Regions from separate parts of the Homo sapiens genome. Here region 2 is linked to region 1. Evidence: fine-mapped expression QTL. Tissue or cell type: adrenal gland. Region 1 holds a variant in brackets; the other region holds the start of a gene. All regions are shown on one strand. Distances are between the middles of the regions.

Region 1 (8,107 bases):
GGTGCATTTTCATGTCATATGCTATGTCTTGGAAGAGACAATTACTCTGATGTAGTAGAAACTGGTTTTGGCTGGCAGACCCTAATTATTTCTCATCTTGATCATTGCAACATTTTTCTCTATATCAATCATCCTCCCTTTCCCAGCCCTCCTTTTGAGCTTTCTCTTGGCATAAAAATATCCACCCTGTCTGTAGGTGTACCCTCTATAAATATAGCACATTTTATTTCACAGTTAAGAAGGAAATCATCATACCAAAACAAGCTCCGGCGAGGGCTGCCGCAGTGCAGACACAAGCAGCAGTTGGTCCAACAAAGACAGTACTCACTCTCACTGCCTTCAGAAGTCATGTCGTTAAGAGTGAGGCACTCCCTTAGTGTCTGGGCCATCTCCAACCTTGCATTCCTCCACGGTGTGATGCAGTCTGCCCACCCAAGTTCTGCATCGTGCACCTCGAGGCCAGAGAGACAGCGTGTCTTCTTTATCCCCAGGTCTCCACTAATGTGAATGGATTAATGAAAATAAATTCAGCAATATAATCCTAAATCAGCACATTATGTTTCTCCAACACCGTTAGGAAGCAGTATGGTAATCGAGTGTGTTCGAAATGTAAACTACATTTTAGACATTTTAGTCCACTAATTATAGGCAGATAATTCGAATTAGATTATTGTTAGGCCTTTGTGGTTCCTTGGTCGTTGTTCAAATCCAGACATTTAATTTAAAAATACTGATTAACAGGACTATAGCAACCAACACTAATATAGTGTTAACTGTGTGCTGGAAGTCAACCTAAATATGCTTATGAAACCACAGAATCTTCACCACAGCCCTGTGAGGTTAGCTCTAATATTACTTCCATTTTACAGATGAGGAAATGGAGGTGTGGAGAGGTGAGATAACTGTCAGAACAGAGCAGAATGAAGCACAGGATGCCTGCTCCCAAGTGCCTCTCTTAGCCACCTCACCATGTGGGCTCTGGACAGTTGGGTTGAGTTTGTGTCTTTGTGTTCATCAGGGTTAATGGAAGGATGAAGCCGTTCTGTGTGCACCTTTGCACATTGCAATCTGGCCTATCATCATTGTGGCTCCTTTCATTTTATCATATAGAAATTGTAGTGTCTGTTAAGTAAGCAAAATTACTAAGTACAAAATATCCATACTACATACAAATGCCTACGTGCACTGTGTCACAGAGCACCATCCTTTCAGTGCCGGCAGTGCTGCCCTCACTCGATGAAGACGAGCTGAGGTTGTGCTGCAAGACTTGAACCTGTCTGCGAACCCATTCTAGGTAGCAGCCTGATGACGGCCTGAGTAAGGAGTTCAAAGTGCCGCATACATGATCATTCTTAGTCCAGCAGAACAGCCCCAAGTGACTTGTGGCTGTTCCCTAGAACAAAGTCACCTGCTCAGAAAGCAAGGGTGGACTGCCCTTGAGAATATTCACAAAGAATGTGCCCCGTGTCCTAAAGGATACTGAATCAGCTGGGAATCTTCTGCATACTGTCCATCAATCTGTGTATCTGTCACTTTCGTGTCTGTGGCTGTCAGCTCCCTTCTACTTGGGCCCTTCTGAAGCTACGGAAGTTGGATTGGCAACAGCTCTGCTCCCCGGTTAAACTTCAGGTTCCTGGTGGGGAGGGCTGGTGGGTGGCACTCACTGTACTCCTAGCTAACACAACATCTTGTCGATGGTCGCCAAAAACTCCCCTTCTCTTTCTCTGTTAGCCTGTTTTATATCCTATTTAAATGTTGGATACCATTATTCAGTAGTATGTTTTTTCTGGGTTAAATGTTGGTTCTTTTATAAAGAAATCCTATAAACTAGATTCTGATGGTTAAATATGGCTTTAAAGATTTTTACTGTTTGAAGTAGTAAGAACTACATTTTCTGTGAGAGAGCACATACACCCCTGAAACAAAAGCTTCATGAACACATCTCTTTTGTCATTGTTTTCTGTTTGGAGACAGGGTCTCACTCTGTCACCTAGGCTGCAGTGCAGTGGCACGATCATGGCTCACTGCAGCCTCAACCTCCCCAGGCTCAAGCAATCCTCCTACCTCAGCCTCCTGAGTAGCTGGCATCACAAGCGTGTGCTACTGCACCTGGCTAATTTCTGTATTTTTTGTGGAGACAGGATTTCACCATGTTGCCCAGGCTGGTCTTGAACTCCTGGGCTCAAGCGATCTGCTTGCCTCAACCTCCCAAAGTGTTAGGATTAACATCTGTGAGCCACTGTGCCCAGCCCATGAACACACCTTATACTCTGATACTCTCTATTCCATTCTGTCCCTTTTCAAATGCTCGTCATGCCCCATTAAATTGATCTCACAACCTACTCCTGGGTCACGGTCTGCAGTTTGGGAGCACTATTCGAGACTCTGGGGGAAGCAGGTCCTGTGAGGGAGCCCATTGCCACAGAAAAACTTTATAGTAAATTTCCCCAAGTCTGTAGCAACATTGAGAAATGTTGTTAAGGGAAAATAAGTCATTTTGATCTCCCCAAGAGGGAAGTAGTGGGACTTCTGACTTGGTTAACGGATGGGGAAAGGTGTCTCTCTGAGCTCCCTGCTGTCCTGAAGAGACGTTGGCATTTTTCGTTGCTCAGTTTTTCCTAAAAATGTAGGATTTTTTTTTAAGAAATGAGACCTGAAACAACATATGGGAACAATAAAGGAGATGATATTTTCTTGGTGCTACTCAGGTGGTTTCTTTCTCTTCTAACCAAGCTGGGAGAGCAGGGAACTCAGGTACCAGGAGAAGTCAGCTTGACCGGAGCCCTCAGCAGGGAGAGGACTCCTGCTAGGGGGGCAGTAGGCTCTGAGCCGGGCAAACCCATGGGTTTTGACTCCAAACTGAGTAGGTGAGCAGAGGGCTGCTTTGAAGTCTCAAAATGAAAAGAAGAAAAGGATGAAGGGGCCTGGCACTCTAGGGTTAATGAGAAAGGGACTGATTTTTCCTAGGGTGTGCATTTTTTTCATCTTTTTCTGAGAATGTGCTTATTTAAATACATGCAGAATTTCTTGTTATGGCTTTGTGGAATTGTCTTAAAATCTGAATTTCCAGTTTTTAGAAGATGTTGATTTGAATAGCTTTGATCTTGACCTCAAATTAAATCGCGG[G/T]CCATGGAATTAGGGTGACATTCTTCCTTCTTCCCTGATGCAGAGTGAGGGAGCCAGGGGTGAGTCACAGCCTCCTCTGTGCATCATTAGCCCTTAGGATGACGACGGTCTCGTCACAGCGGCCAGGCGGTAGTCAGGGCCCTGCGCTCCTGGTGAGTCCGGGCTCTGTTCACAAAGCTGGCGGCTTGGAGGAGGCAGCCCCTGCATTCTCCTGTGCTCCTCTCTGGCAGTTGACCTAGCGGGAAGTGCCACTGCCCACAAGCATTCCATCAACTTGTGAGTTTCACTTCTTTGCCAAAAACTGGCAGAGAGAAATGTGACAGGGAATTGAACTTAGGCGTTTCATTTGCTGGAAGCTGAATCTCAGGTAGGTGACGTTTTTGTGTGTCTTCGCTATGCCTTCCTCCCTTGAGCCTTGTACTTGGATTTCTGTTCCCCAAGGAACCACATCGCGTAGTCACAAGACAGTGGCCTGGGGGTCAGGAGGCCCTGTGTTTGCACATTGTCTCTGCCTCTGATTTATTTCTTCAACAAATATATATTGAGTGCCAATTGTGTGCCAGTCACTTTTAAGGATACCAGGAATTCAGTTTTGCAGAGCTTGCATTCCAGTGCTGGGGGAAGAAGGATGGCAAAGACGAAAACAGCATCATTTAGAAAGTTAGCTGCACTATGAGGGAGATACCCAGGTACGGAGGTTGTGCCTGGGCAAGGACGGGCTCCCTCGGCAGGGAGGTGATCAGGGCAGGCCTCCTGGGGGAAGTGACATTTGAGCTGACATGACCTGAATGCTGAGCAGCCACCCATGAGAAAAACTGGAAGAAGAAAGTCCAAGGAGAGGGCACCATGGGAAGAAGGCCCTGTGGCGGGGACAGGCTCAGCATTTTATAGCCACCGGTCTCTAATTCAAGAGCAGGGAGAACAGGGTCATCAAAGGGACCCCAGCCAGATGGACATGGAGACATACAAGTGTCATAAAAGAGAGGGAAGGATAATGATGGGCAGGGAAGGAATAGACAACGAAGTAGCCGTAGGCAGAGAAAATAAATCTGCATGTTCACCTGAAATAACATTTTGAAGCACATGTTGATGTTAGCATTAAATTGGAAATGTCAGTAGTGAATTCATGATCCTAAAGAGAAGCCCAGACAGCCCTGTCCCCAAGGCAGGCCGGAATGGTGGCCCTACCCAGAAGCAGCCCTCACATGGGACCATCGGGCCCCACAAGCAGCACCTAGATTTTGGTCTCAGTGCTGTCCTCTATTTAAAGGAAAGGAGCTGACCCCATGTCTTAGGGCAGGAGTAATCCAAGACAGGCCTGGAACTTTTGTTCTTGCTAGAAAAAAGAATGATTTCAAAGCAGCCAGGGAACTTCCAGTTTAAAAAGGTGATGTGAACACGCACATGCACCCAAAATACAGAAAGCGGGGTTTCAAAATCATAAGCCACAAAGATAAAGATAGAGGTGAGGCAGCAGCAACAGAAGCGTGGAAGCTGGACAGCAAGTGGAAAAGAGGTCACTGACTTAGCAGACTAGAAAAAGCTGGAACTTAAGCTGAAAAGGGTGAGCTCAGAGGTGGGCTGATTCACATTCAATAATCCCAGAAAGCCTCCAGATCTGGAGCAACCTAATAGGTACGTGGTCTCTCTTTGGAGAGATGAAAATGGTCTGAAATTGTTTGAGATGATGGCTGCACTACTCTGTGAATATATGGAAAACCTTGAGCAGTACGCTTGAAATAAGTGGATTGTATAGTATGTGAATTATACCTCAGTAAAGCTTTATGTTCATTGGGTACTCATGGACATAAAGACGGCAGCAGTAGACACTGGGGACCTCTGGGGCGGGGGAGGCGGGAGGGGACAAGGGTTGAAAAGCTAACTATTGATTACCATGCCCAGGACCTGGGTGATGGGATCAATTGTACCCCAAACCTCAGCATCACACAATATACAAACCTGCATGTGTACCCCCTAGATCTAAAATAAAAGTTGAAAATATTTTTTAAAAAGTAAAAATAAATCTGTTCTATTTTAAAAATGGAGCTACAGATACCTCTGAATGTGGGAGTACAGATAAGGCTGAAGTCAGGAGAACTGGCTGAGAGTCTCCACGGGATGTCCCTTCCTTTCCCCCTCTGTATCCTCCCTAACTCTGCGAGGCCAGGCAGCTGCCATCCCTCCCGTGACAGAGCATGGCTCTGGAGATGCTGAACCAGAGCTGCCAGGCAGAGCCCAGGGTGAGGGCACAGTTCTTAGAACAGGGAGGCTGAGGAAGAGACTCCATCCTGAGTGGTAGAAGTCCAGTGCCCTTTCTCTACCCACAGCCACTCACACCACCCAGGATGGTCAGCCCAAGGGGAAAGGACCTGTGAGGTGGTCCCCCTCCAGGTTCACTGTGTGGACCTTCACCATTTGATAGACCCACCTATGCACCAGAGCATCCAATCTGCTTTTTATGCCTCACTTTTAAATATGAGCAGACAGACAAGGATCCTCAAGGTTTGGGAATGGCTTCCAGGACAGACAGTGTCAGAGACCAGATTAAAGAGGAAAAAAGGCACACCGGAGAAACAGTGACAGTGCATGGGGCAGGAGAAAATAAAAACAACAACCTTCTCCTTACAGAGAGAAGAAAGCTTTGTGCATGAAAAAAAAAAGAATAAAAAAAGTAGTCTTTGGAAATTAAAACAGGTGATGGCAGAAATGAAAACATTTATAGAAAGGACAGAGAGCTATTTTAGAAAAATCTCCCAGAAAGTAAAAAGGAAAAAAAAAATCAGAGATTTAGAAAACAGAAGTGATAAGAATATGAGAGGATTAGTCCAGGAGGTGTGTAACATTAGAATAAAAAGAATTCCCAGAAAGACAGCTAAGAGAGGAAATTATAAAAAAAAAATTTTTTTCAAAGAAATTTCCCAGAACTGAAGGGCGTGAGTTTCCAGGTGGATGAGTCCCCCGCACAGTAGTAAAAGGATGGCAGGTGGAAGGACAGAGAGCAGCGAGAAGCTGAGTCTCCCAGGAGGAGGACACATCTGAGAATGGGAGTTAGTGCAGCTCAGGACTCGTGGGCATCGACCTGAGAGTAGAATGAAGACGTCCTCAGACATTCAGGGACTCCAGATTTTACCTCCCATGACCCAAGCAAGGGGTGAACGAAGAAAGAGGAAGACACAGAACCTTGGAACAGGCATCGGCCCCATGTGGGGAGAGGAAAAGGGAACTGCTGGGACAGTGGAGAAGGGGAATCCCAGGATGGCAGCCATGCAGGGTGGTTCTGGAGTAGAAGGACAGAGGGCACCAGGTGCCCAAAGACTGTCTCTTAGGAAAAAGGAGGGACGAGGGGAGGCAAAGAGGAAAGTGGGGATGGGGGGAACCAGAATACCTGGGGGCTTAAACACACTGAGAGGAGGCTTACAGTCCATCTGAGGGTCAGGCTGGATTCAAGTATGCAGTGCAGTACGCTGGCTGGGAACACAGACCCTGGCCAGCTGGGAACCCTTGCACCCCACGGAGGAGCTTTGTGACCTCTGACAAGATACTCTGCCTCTCTGGGCTTCCATTTTATGTAAAATGAAGATAATCTTAGTACTCACCTAAAAGGGTTGTTGTGACATTTAAATGAGCTAATAGATGTACAGCGCTTAGAGCTGTGCCTGGCCTGTAGTGAGCCCCAGATACACATCAGCTGCTCATGCAGTGAGGAGGATGAGGAGGAGGATGAAGATGAGAAAGATCACAACAGAGGTTGTGGAGATGGTGTTGAACTCCAAGGAAGATAAAGATGTGAGCTTGGTTCATCCCATGGCTCAGTGTCATCATAGTGCAACATTGAATACTAATGAAGCCAAATACAGGAAGGCCTCACTTAATGTTGTCAAGAGGTTCTTGGAAATTTTCACTTTAAGTGAAATGACATATAACAGAACCAATTTTCCCAAAGGCTAATTTATACAAAGAGAAGTTAAGTTCCTACAGCATATTTCTGATCACAAAAACAGCAAACTTCTAAATAAAGACCCAAAACACTTCTAGTATTAAACATTAAAATAAATGTGAGCTATCATACATTTAAGAAAATTAATTAAACAGGATAATTATTTACCCAAGTTTTGATGCATCAGTGAGTAACAATGGTCCTCTTGGTAGTGGGTTAAATTAAGAAATAAATGTGTGACTATTGTAAGGAGCACCTCCTCCCACCACAGTTCAAAAACCAGCAATAACAGATGTGGCAGGCTCGCTGAGCACTTTTGCACATCATCATTTACTGTCGTGCACTTGTACAATTATCGTAGACTTTACAGACTTTTATTTGATAATTTGTATTCATTTTCTTTTTTTATTATACTTTAAGTTCTGTATACATGTGCAGAACGTGCAGGTTTGTTACATAGCTATACACATGCCATGGTGGTTTGCTGCACCCATCAACCCGTCATCTACATTAGGTATTTCTTCTAATGCTATCCCTCCCCTAGCCCCCCATGCCCCAACAGGCCCCGGTGTGTGATGTTCCCCTCCCTGTGTCCATGTGTTCTCATTGTTCAACTCCCACTTATGAGTGAGAACATGTGGTGTTTGGTTTTCTGTTCCTGTGTTAGTTTGCTGAGAATGATAGTTTCTGGCTTTATCCATGTCCCTGCAAAGGACATGACCTCATCCTATTTTATGGCTGCATAGTATTCCATGGTGTATATGTGCCACATTTTCTTTATCTATCATTGATGGACATTTGGGTTGGTTCCAAGTCTTTGCTGTTGTAAACAGGGCTGCAGTAAACATACATGTGCATGTGTCTTTATAGTAGAATGATTTATAATCCTTTGAGTATATACCCAGTAATGGGATTGCTGGGTCGAATGGTATTTCTGGTTCTAGATCCTTGAGGAATCACCACACTGTCTTCCACAATGGTTGAAATAATTTACACTCCCACCAACAGTGTAAAAGCCTTCCTGTTTCTCCACATCCTCTCCAG
Region 2 (8,104 bases), 320 kb before region 1:
GGGCAAAAAAGGCTGTGCAGTCTTTTACAAGCATTAGTGGCCTTAGTGGCTCCATTACAGTCAACAGCAACTGAAGTTATCATCTGAGTGAGCCAAAGCTGGAAAGAAGGGAAATAATAGATACCAGAGCAGCCAAGAGGGTAGTACACGGAGTCCAACCAAGCCACCCCTAGCAGGCCCTTAGAATAGATTGAGGAGGACTTTGCAAAGCACCTAGTGCTCTCTCACGTGAGGAGAGACTGGGCTTGTCTTATTCAAATTGTATCCCTCATATCTTGCGCAGTGGAACAGGACTGCAAGGCTGCACAGATCCCAGGGTCACTGTTCATGCAGTTGCCTATATAAATAGAGCCTTCTGGAGTTGTGTAACAGGAGCTTTGCATAGATGTTCAATCAAGATAGGTTAAAGGCAAAAATGAAACAGTAATTGCTTAGCTGCTTCTGTTAACATTATTCTAAAACTCAGGTTGGGGTGGCCTGAGCAGCAGTGGCTCCCATCAGATTTGGGTTTGGAGTTATCATCTGGGTAGTAGTGTGGCACATAATGTAGTGGAATGGATCCAGGATGCTCAATTAGAACTGCAGTGATTGGGTGGGTGTTTTACTACTTTAGTTCTGGAAAAGTCCTTCAAGGAACTGGAAATAAATGCCAAAACTACGTATACAGTCAGTAGGCAGGAGCAGCCAGGTGGAGAGCTAGGGGCTAACACTCATGAGGTCACTGGTGGCAACTAATAAGAATACCCCCATTACTCATTCTAAGGCTAGCTCTTAATCCTAGGCAAAATGAGACTGAGGGACAAAATGAGAATTAATCACCAGAGAGCAGATAAAGCTGATTCATTTCTGAGCTGGAATAAAATAAATACAGAAAACTTGGTTACATAAATATTAAACAATAAAACCTGGAATAGAAATCATCCTCCTTAGAAGAAGATGGAGCCTAAAAAGAAGGCATCCCTTTGAGCCCAAGGTTGCTGTTGGTGGAAGTGGCAGCCTTAGCATTCAAGAGCCAGGGAACATCAGACATTGTAAGCGTCCACAGACTTGCATGAGCTGAAGAAGACCAAGGTTCATGATCTGCTCCTTCGACACAGTGGTGACAATAGAAGAAATATCTAGTAAACCTGAAAAGCACCTCAAGAGGGACCTGGAAAACAATCTAAAAAGCCAGAGAAAGCTACAGTTGAAGGCAGTATAGAGTTAGATTCAAGATAGAATCTAATGTTCATATAGATCCTCTTGCATCATTAACAGATGTCCACACAGGACACAGGAAGTGCACGGTTTTGATTATCAGTGTATGCCAAAATAAACCAATTCCTGTATGTGGAGGACAGACAGCTGTATGAAGCAGGATCCTCAGTGTCTTCAGTTGGCTCCATTAGACCAGTGGATTCACACCTTCCGGCAGCTGCCCCATCTCGAGGGCACTGGACATGCTGGATTTGGGGAGACTGTTATGCGATCTCAAACCATTTGTAATGCTAAGTACCATATTATGGGGCCACTGCACATCCATACTTTGTGCCTATACATTGGGAGGCACTGGGCTCTGGGGAGAGACAGATGGTTTTCAAGAAAAGGCTCTTAAACCCAGAGAATGCTTCTTGTCTACAGCCACTGTCATATCATTCTGACTTCTCAGTTCCCTCACTTTCCCTCTCCTTTCAAATATTTTTACTTTCCAAATCAGACAGATGTTTTTTGCCAGTACAGAGGTATATCAGTCATCACCTTCTCTCTCGGATGTAATAAGTTGAATTGTTTGTTTTATATATTTTTGTAGCTTAGATGTTGACTTTATCTAAAGGGATATCCTGGAAACAAACATTTTAAAAATATAAGTACAGAAAGGTAAGCATGCTATTAGCAATTTTTAAAAAACTTTGCCTGTGGTTACTATCTATATATAATTTGTCCTTCTATTGTCTATCAATGCCTTCTAAATGCACCATGAGTACAGAGAAAAAAACTGTCTGTGTGCACCTGGGAGAACTTGCTTGATGCCCCGGCCTCAGTTTACCACATCTCCAAAACCAGTGGTTCTGACAGCCAGAGTATCTTCCAGGTCTAAGAGATCACAATCATGTATCTTATATAAAGACCGGAAATGCCTAGAGTGTACAGATTTTTAAAAAGTAGTATGAGCAGAACATCACATAAACAAAGCTTCAGTCACATATGAAGAAGTAGTAGGGTGGATTATTTTCAGGCAAAATGAACTGATTCCTTACAAAACAGTAATAATTATCCAAGGTAGAGAAAATAATTTTGTCTTAAAAACCAATATCTTGATTTACTTTGGAAGTTATTTTAGCTCACTTCATTTTTTAAAAAATCTATTTTTTTCAATTTGGTCTAGCAAGGTTTTATTTTAGGAATAGTGAAACTGACAGGAGGTAGTAGAAAGCCATGCATTAGTGAAACCCAGGCCCCTTACTTCCTTCATCTTTCACCTGCACATTTCTGGCACTTCCCATCTCGGAACTCTCTTGCCTGAACCACCTCTCCACACTCTTGGGAGTTAATAACTCCACGTAGACAATTTTTCCTCTGGAGGACAGAACTGCTACTTCTTCAAAGCTTTTGGGGCTCCCAGATGCTGCATAGTGGGGGTGCCTAACATTCATCTCTAAGGGTGGCTGTTTTGGCATCATTTTTGGCTGAAGTTTTGTATTGCATTTCCATGTCATTTGGTGTGGTGTGTGCCTGCCAGATATTCTGCCTGCTCTCAGCTGAAGGCCTTCCCAGATTGGGCAGCTGAATGTACTGCACAGCTGCCAAAATTCTAATTCAAGATCTAGAATTCTAACTCCTGCTCTTTAGACCCTTGTCTGGCCTTGGCCTCAGTCCCCTGCCAACTCGGTCCCTGGCTCATTATCAGGCCCACCAGGGCCCTGCCCCCACCCTCATTGGGCCCATGAAACCATTCTTGGCACCAAACTGAACTTCAAGACACAGCTGCCCCAGCCCCACCCAAGCCGAATCTCATCTCAGCAAGTTTGTCACCTTGTGAGCTGCAAGACAGAAGAGATGAGAAGAGAAAATGCCACCGGTGATGGTCAGATCATAAAACTTCCTGTAGCAACAGACATATTACATGTGCCTTTACTCTAAGCACTTACATGAAAAGCAAACAATCCCATTATTAGAAATAACACTAGACAGAGATGCATAGAGTTTATGGAGGGAGGAATACTATTTCTCCATGCATCTGCACCAGAGGGTAAGTGAAATTTGCCCTAAGGAAAAATGCTAAATTCAGTATGCATATATTAATATTAATAAAAAAAATGTACTGTTGGGTCATAAACTGCTGATAATGTGTAATATTTCTTAGACACCTGGAAAAGTGCTACTGGAAAATACACACTTTACAGAAGAAATATGACTGCAACTGGAGGAGGGGGTGGGGACAAGAAAGTAATTGATTCTCAGCAAAATGCTGGTTTTCAGGGAAGCTACTAAATTCACCTTAAGTGGTTACCTGGTCAACATTATGCTTTAAATGCTCACAGGATGAAATCGCTTCCTTTTTAAATGAAGAGTCACTATGTCCCTTGCCGTTGTTTCCGCTCCTTCTAGCCTTAACCAATGCACTGTCCTTTCTGCAGTGGCTGAAACGAGGATGGGTTAATTACCAGACCTGAGATGGTGGAGTGGGTGCAGTAGGGTGCTGTAATTTCGGGTGATGAAATTATTTTAGTTTTTGTTTTCCTAGAAGGAGCAGGGAGTATAAAAAACGTGGCACATATGTAAAACACAGGCAAATGCACTTGACAACCAAGCACTCTATTTTGAAATTTAAATAAAGCTAAGATTTTTTTCTGGCCTAGAGGGAAAGCTTCATTAAAATCAATTAGTTAGTACAAACCTCCGGAGAATGTGTACTTTTTCTAAAGAAGGTTTAAAGAAGAAGGTGCACACAATTACCTTTCCTGGGTCCCCTGTGAATGTGTCACACCTAGACAGGTGGCTGAGTACAAAAAAATGTCCCTGAGAGGGACCAGGGTAACTCCCTGAGTTCTCCTCGCAGGGAGGTAGGTGTAATTAATCGATGTGGGTGTATTAAGAACGTCATATACATAACCAAGGAGGCTCCAAACAGATGGCACGGATGGCAAGCCGTAAAGGGCAGGCCTAGCGAGATAAAGTTGGTGGCAGGGCTCGCAGGTGAGGCCTGGGTCCGCGCGCTGAGGTTGGGGCCGCACAGCTGTAGCCGCGCGCCCTGGTCCCTCCTCCCAGCTGCGGCGGCCTTCCCCCCCCGCCCCCGCCCCCGCCCTCCCCCCGCCGCTCCCGACGCCGCCGCCGCAGCCGCCGCCTCCCCTCTGCCTCCCGGTGGCTCCTCGCTCTCCTTCCATCTCTCTCGCCCCCTCTCCCTCCGTCCCGTCCTCGCCGCTCCCCTCACCCCGCCTCTCTCCCCCTCCCCCAGCCCCTCCTCTCCTCACCCCACCCGGCCTCCCTCCCTCCCTCGCCCGCCCGGCGCTCGCAGAGCCGACACCAGGGGGGCTCTCGATGTAGCACCATGACAGGCATCGCCGCCGCCTCCTTCTTCTCCAATACCTGCCGATTCGGGGGCTGCGGACTCCACTTCCCCACCCTGGCCGACCTCATCGAGCACATCGAGGACAACCACATCGGTAAATGGCCCGGGGGTGGGCGGGGGTGCCAGGCGCGCGGAAACTCCTGCCCGGGCGGGGAGCCCCGGAATGGCCAGGGGTGGCCGGCGGGGAGGGAGGCGGCAGGGCGGGGAGGGCGCGTGCGAGCCCCGAGGTGGGGGTGGCGGGATGCGGGGGCGCGAGGTGCCGGGGGGCGGGGAGCGGGCTCGGGTGGGGGAGGGGGCGGGCGCCCCGAGGTGCCGCGGGCGGGCGGGCGGGCGGCTGGGGGACTCAGGGGCGTGCACGCGGGCTGCGAAGTGGTGGGAGCGGGGAGCGCCGCGGCGGGGCGGCGGGGTTGCGGCGGCGGGGCCGAGTGCCGGCGCGCGGGGCGCGGGGCGGAGGGCGCGGCGGGCGGCGGGAGCTGGGCGCTGGGCAGGGTCGCGGAGTTAGTTGGCCCGGGTGGTCGGAGTAGCCCGAGGCGCTGAGGGCAGCGGGGGGCGGGCGCTGCACGCCGCCGGGCGCTTCCGCCCCGGCTCGAGCTGTCAGGGCTCGGCGGCGGCTGCAGCCGCGGGGAGGTGGAGCGGGGGGGCGGGGGTGGCTCCACCGCGGCAGCCATTCCGCTTCCTCCTCCCGCCGCCGCCGCCGCCACTGCGTCCTGTCAGCGCCGGTTGCTAGGTGTGGTGCGTCGGGAGGGGGCCGGGGCCGGCGGCCGCGGGCGGGGGCCGGGGAGCTTGCCCTCTCCCTGGGAGGCGGCCGAGGGGCCCGGGCGGGGCCGGGGACGCGGGCCCGGGGGCTCTGGGTGCCCTCCCCTGCCCCGGCCTGGCGCGGACGCCCGGGCGCTGCGGGCTGAGGTCTTGGGTGCGCCCGCGGGCCGCGCCCAGCGCCCCGGGGTCGACGCGCCCTGGAGGCCCCTGCGGCGGCGCCCGCTGGAGAGACACCCCCAGGGCCCATGGCCGGGCATTTAAATGCACCCCGGCTCTGCGATTTGCCTTTCTAATGGTGCTAGGCCCGAGGTGCGCTGGCTGCGCCCTGGGATCGGCGGCGGCCTGCGCAGCGCCCCGGGCCCGGGAGACGCCGGGGAGGGGGCGCCCCGCAGGGTGGCTGCTTTCCCTTCACGCCTGGACCCCTGGACCTTTCAACAAGTCCTCTGATTTGCAGAAGTCATTGCACACATTTTCACACTTCTATTCGGAACCCCTGCTAAGGGAGGTGGGCCGGGTGCATCTGGCTTAGGCGGTCCAACCACCTGCGGAAGGTGTGACCGACGCCAGCGAGTTGTCCTGCGTGGGCTAGAAGGTGAAGGGTCCGAGCGATGTCCCAATGGGGCTGTCTAATCCAGAGAACCTGTAAATTGCCCCCAGGAAGTCCAAATGAATGCCATGGATTCAGCCATGTGGATGCAGCTCACGTTTCTACAAAGTTGAGAGAATAAATCACGACTGCTGTGTATTTATGCAGGAATAAAATGAGGCAGAACCCTATGCTCCTTTGCTTAGTATAGTGCTGTCTCTGCACACAGTGGCTGCTTAATAAGTGTTGAATGCCTGTTTAGAATGTGATTTGATGGGCCATCCGGAATAGGAGATAATCATGGGAAACGTCTACAAAATGTCTTTCAGAGGAAAATGCTGTTGAGTAATTGTCCAGGTTTTGAAACTTTTCAAGTTTTCAGGCGTCCTTGTAATAGCTTCTTCCATTTCCTCTGCTAAAGGTATGACAGAAGAGCTGGGCAAGTTTTGGTAGTCTTAAAAGCAGTTTAATGGAGCAACCAATTTGCTGATTCATATCATGATTGAATAGTCATAACTGAAAGTGCTTGAAAGTATTAAATCAGATTTTTCATGATGGCTAGTTTAAAATAAAGCGAAAACACCGGTACTGTGAAGTTCTGGTAGAAATGTTACTAGTTCAAGTTCTTCCCCTTACTCCCAATAATAAGTAAAAAATAAATATAGATAATGCTATACATTAATATGTATGATATAAGTAATATAAATAAATAATTTCTCTTGACTTACAGAAGGCTGTCATTGCATATCCCATCCATTCTCGCTAACAGTTATTTCAGAATAAACTATAATTTATATAAGCTGAGTAATAATTTTACCCCATTGCCTACCTACTTAGACAAGCTGGTTAAAAGACAGTATAAATTATATTTATTAAAATGTGTTAAAGACAGTTATCCTTCTTGAGGATTTAGTTTGAGATGGTTTAAAACTTGGTGAATCATGAGGTTTTTTTTTTAAGTGTAGAAATTGTCTTAATATTTTGCACACATTTTTAAAGAAGGTTAAGAGTTTGATACGTTTTCTAAAACTCAGCTTTGAAGTAATGCTACCTCATTCCCAGAAGGCTAGTGTTGTCCTTTTAATAGTGAAAATGTGGAAAAATTAAGTTTACAGCAATAGCAGTGACCTAGGTGAACTGTGTTGCAGGGCTAACACAGTTGAAAACAGTTTGAACCAGCAAACTTTATGAAAAGCAAATGTTAAAATGAACAAACACTTGCAATTCCCAGGATGAAGAGGCTCAAACTATTATACACTTCTGCTGGGGAGAGGCCCTTTACTATCAAAGGCAGCCCTATATGCAGAAAGAAGAACTGATCTTAAGAAGAATAAAAATATCCCAATTAGTAGATAGTGTCATATAAATACACTTCTGATGAAAAGACATGGGTGAAAATATAAAGCATTTAGTCAAAGTTCTAGACAGGTATTGTTATGTGGTATTTATCGTTTTTGATTCAATCTATAAGTATTTGGAGACCGTTAATGATTGACTTACTGATTTCATGTCTGTTGGTGAGTGGTTACATTAAAAAGATTCATGAAAAGAATAAGAGGTGTGTTATTTTGCTTTTAATTTGTTCAACAGTCTTGTTATTTAGCAACCGTGAGTATTAGAGATATGCTTAGGTGAGCATTCCATTTTGGGGGCCTATCTGGGTTATTACCTTTAGCCACTAGTAAAAACCCTTAAACAGCGATAAAATGAATATTTATGGGAATATGGTGTGTTTCTTGCTTGGCAGATTTTTCAAGGCCTGTGTTTTTCATTATAAAAGTATTATGTTTAGTTTGGATTAATTAAGTGCATTAAGTTGAGAATAACTCTCTGTTATCTTATATGTGTATGCTTAACTTTTGTTTTTAACTGTTTTCCTCTCCCCATAATGAACAAGGATTTGGGGGCTTTAGAACCAAGGGAAGTGTGATTTTCACCACCCACTTTTTTAGCTCTTTTCTCTCCTGGAAGAGTGCTGTACCGGTGTTCCTGTTTTCTTTCTTGCATTTCACTGCTGGTTCAGTACTGGAGTACCTGTCTCAGTGTATACACTGAATATCCTAGCTAAAACTCTCCCCCATCCCCACTTAAATTTAAATTGCCGAGAAATCCCGTAGCCCTGCAACTGTGAAGTGCTTTTCCATCAATTTTGTTATCAATTCATTCATAGGTCTGAGTCTGTTACATGGAGATGGGAAAAGCAGGTCCAGGTT

Which allele goes with the higher level. Positions count from the first base shown, and alleles are read on the strand shown. Sizes are in standard deviations (SD) of each study's normalised expression.
For the expression in adrenal gland of the gene that starts at base 4,311 in region 2, allele G in region 1 goes with a higher level than allele T (moderate effect, 0.43 SD a copy in GTEx).

Evidence for each region. PIP is the estimated chance that this variant, and not a neighbour inherited with it, causes the effect.
Region 2: JAZF1 starts here. The variant in region 1 is fine-mapped to the expression of JAZF1 in adrenal gland (GTEx, PIP above 0.99).

What each region holds. Positions count from the first base shown.
Region 1 is chr7:27,859,231-27,867,337 of GRCh38, reverse strand. The region is part of intron 3 of JAZF1 (JAZF zinc finger 1); the gene reads left to right. Among named protein-coding and RNA genes, the nearest start is that of TAX1BP1-AS1, 120 kb to the right of the region's middle. RefSeq lists an enhancer at 2,790-3,290. The variant G/T (reference allele first, on the strand shown) is at 3,127.
Region 2 is chr7:28,177,002-28,185,105 of GRCh38, reverse strand. It overlaps JAZF1 (JAZF zinc finger 1), which reads left to right and starts at 4,311. Exons shown (of 5, transcript NM_175061.4): 1 at 4,311-4,643. The coding sequence starts at 4,529. JAZF1-AS1 (JAZF1 antisense RNA 1) reads right to left here and starts at 4,649. Exons shown (of 4, transcript NR_034097.1): 1 at 4,567-4,649. RefSeq lists a silencer at 5,117-5,236 and enhancers at 5,091-5,590, 5,591-6,092.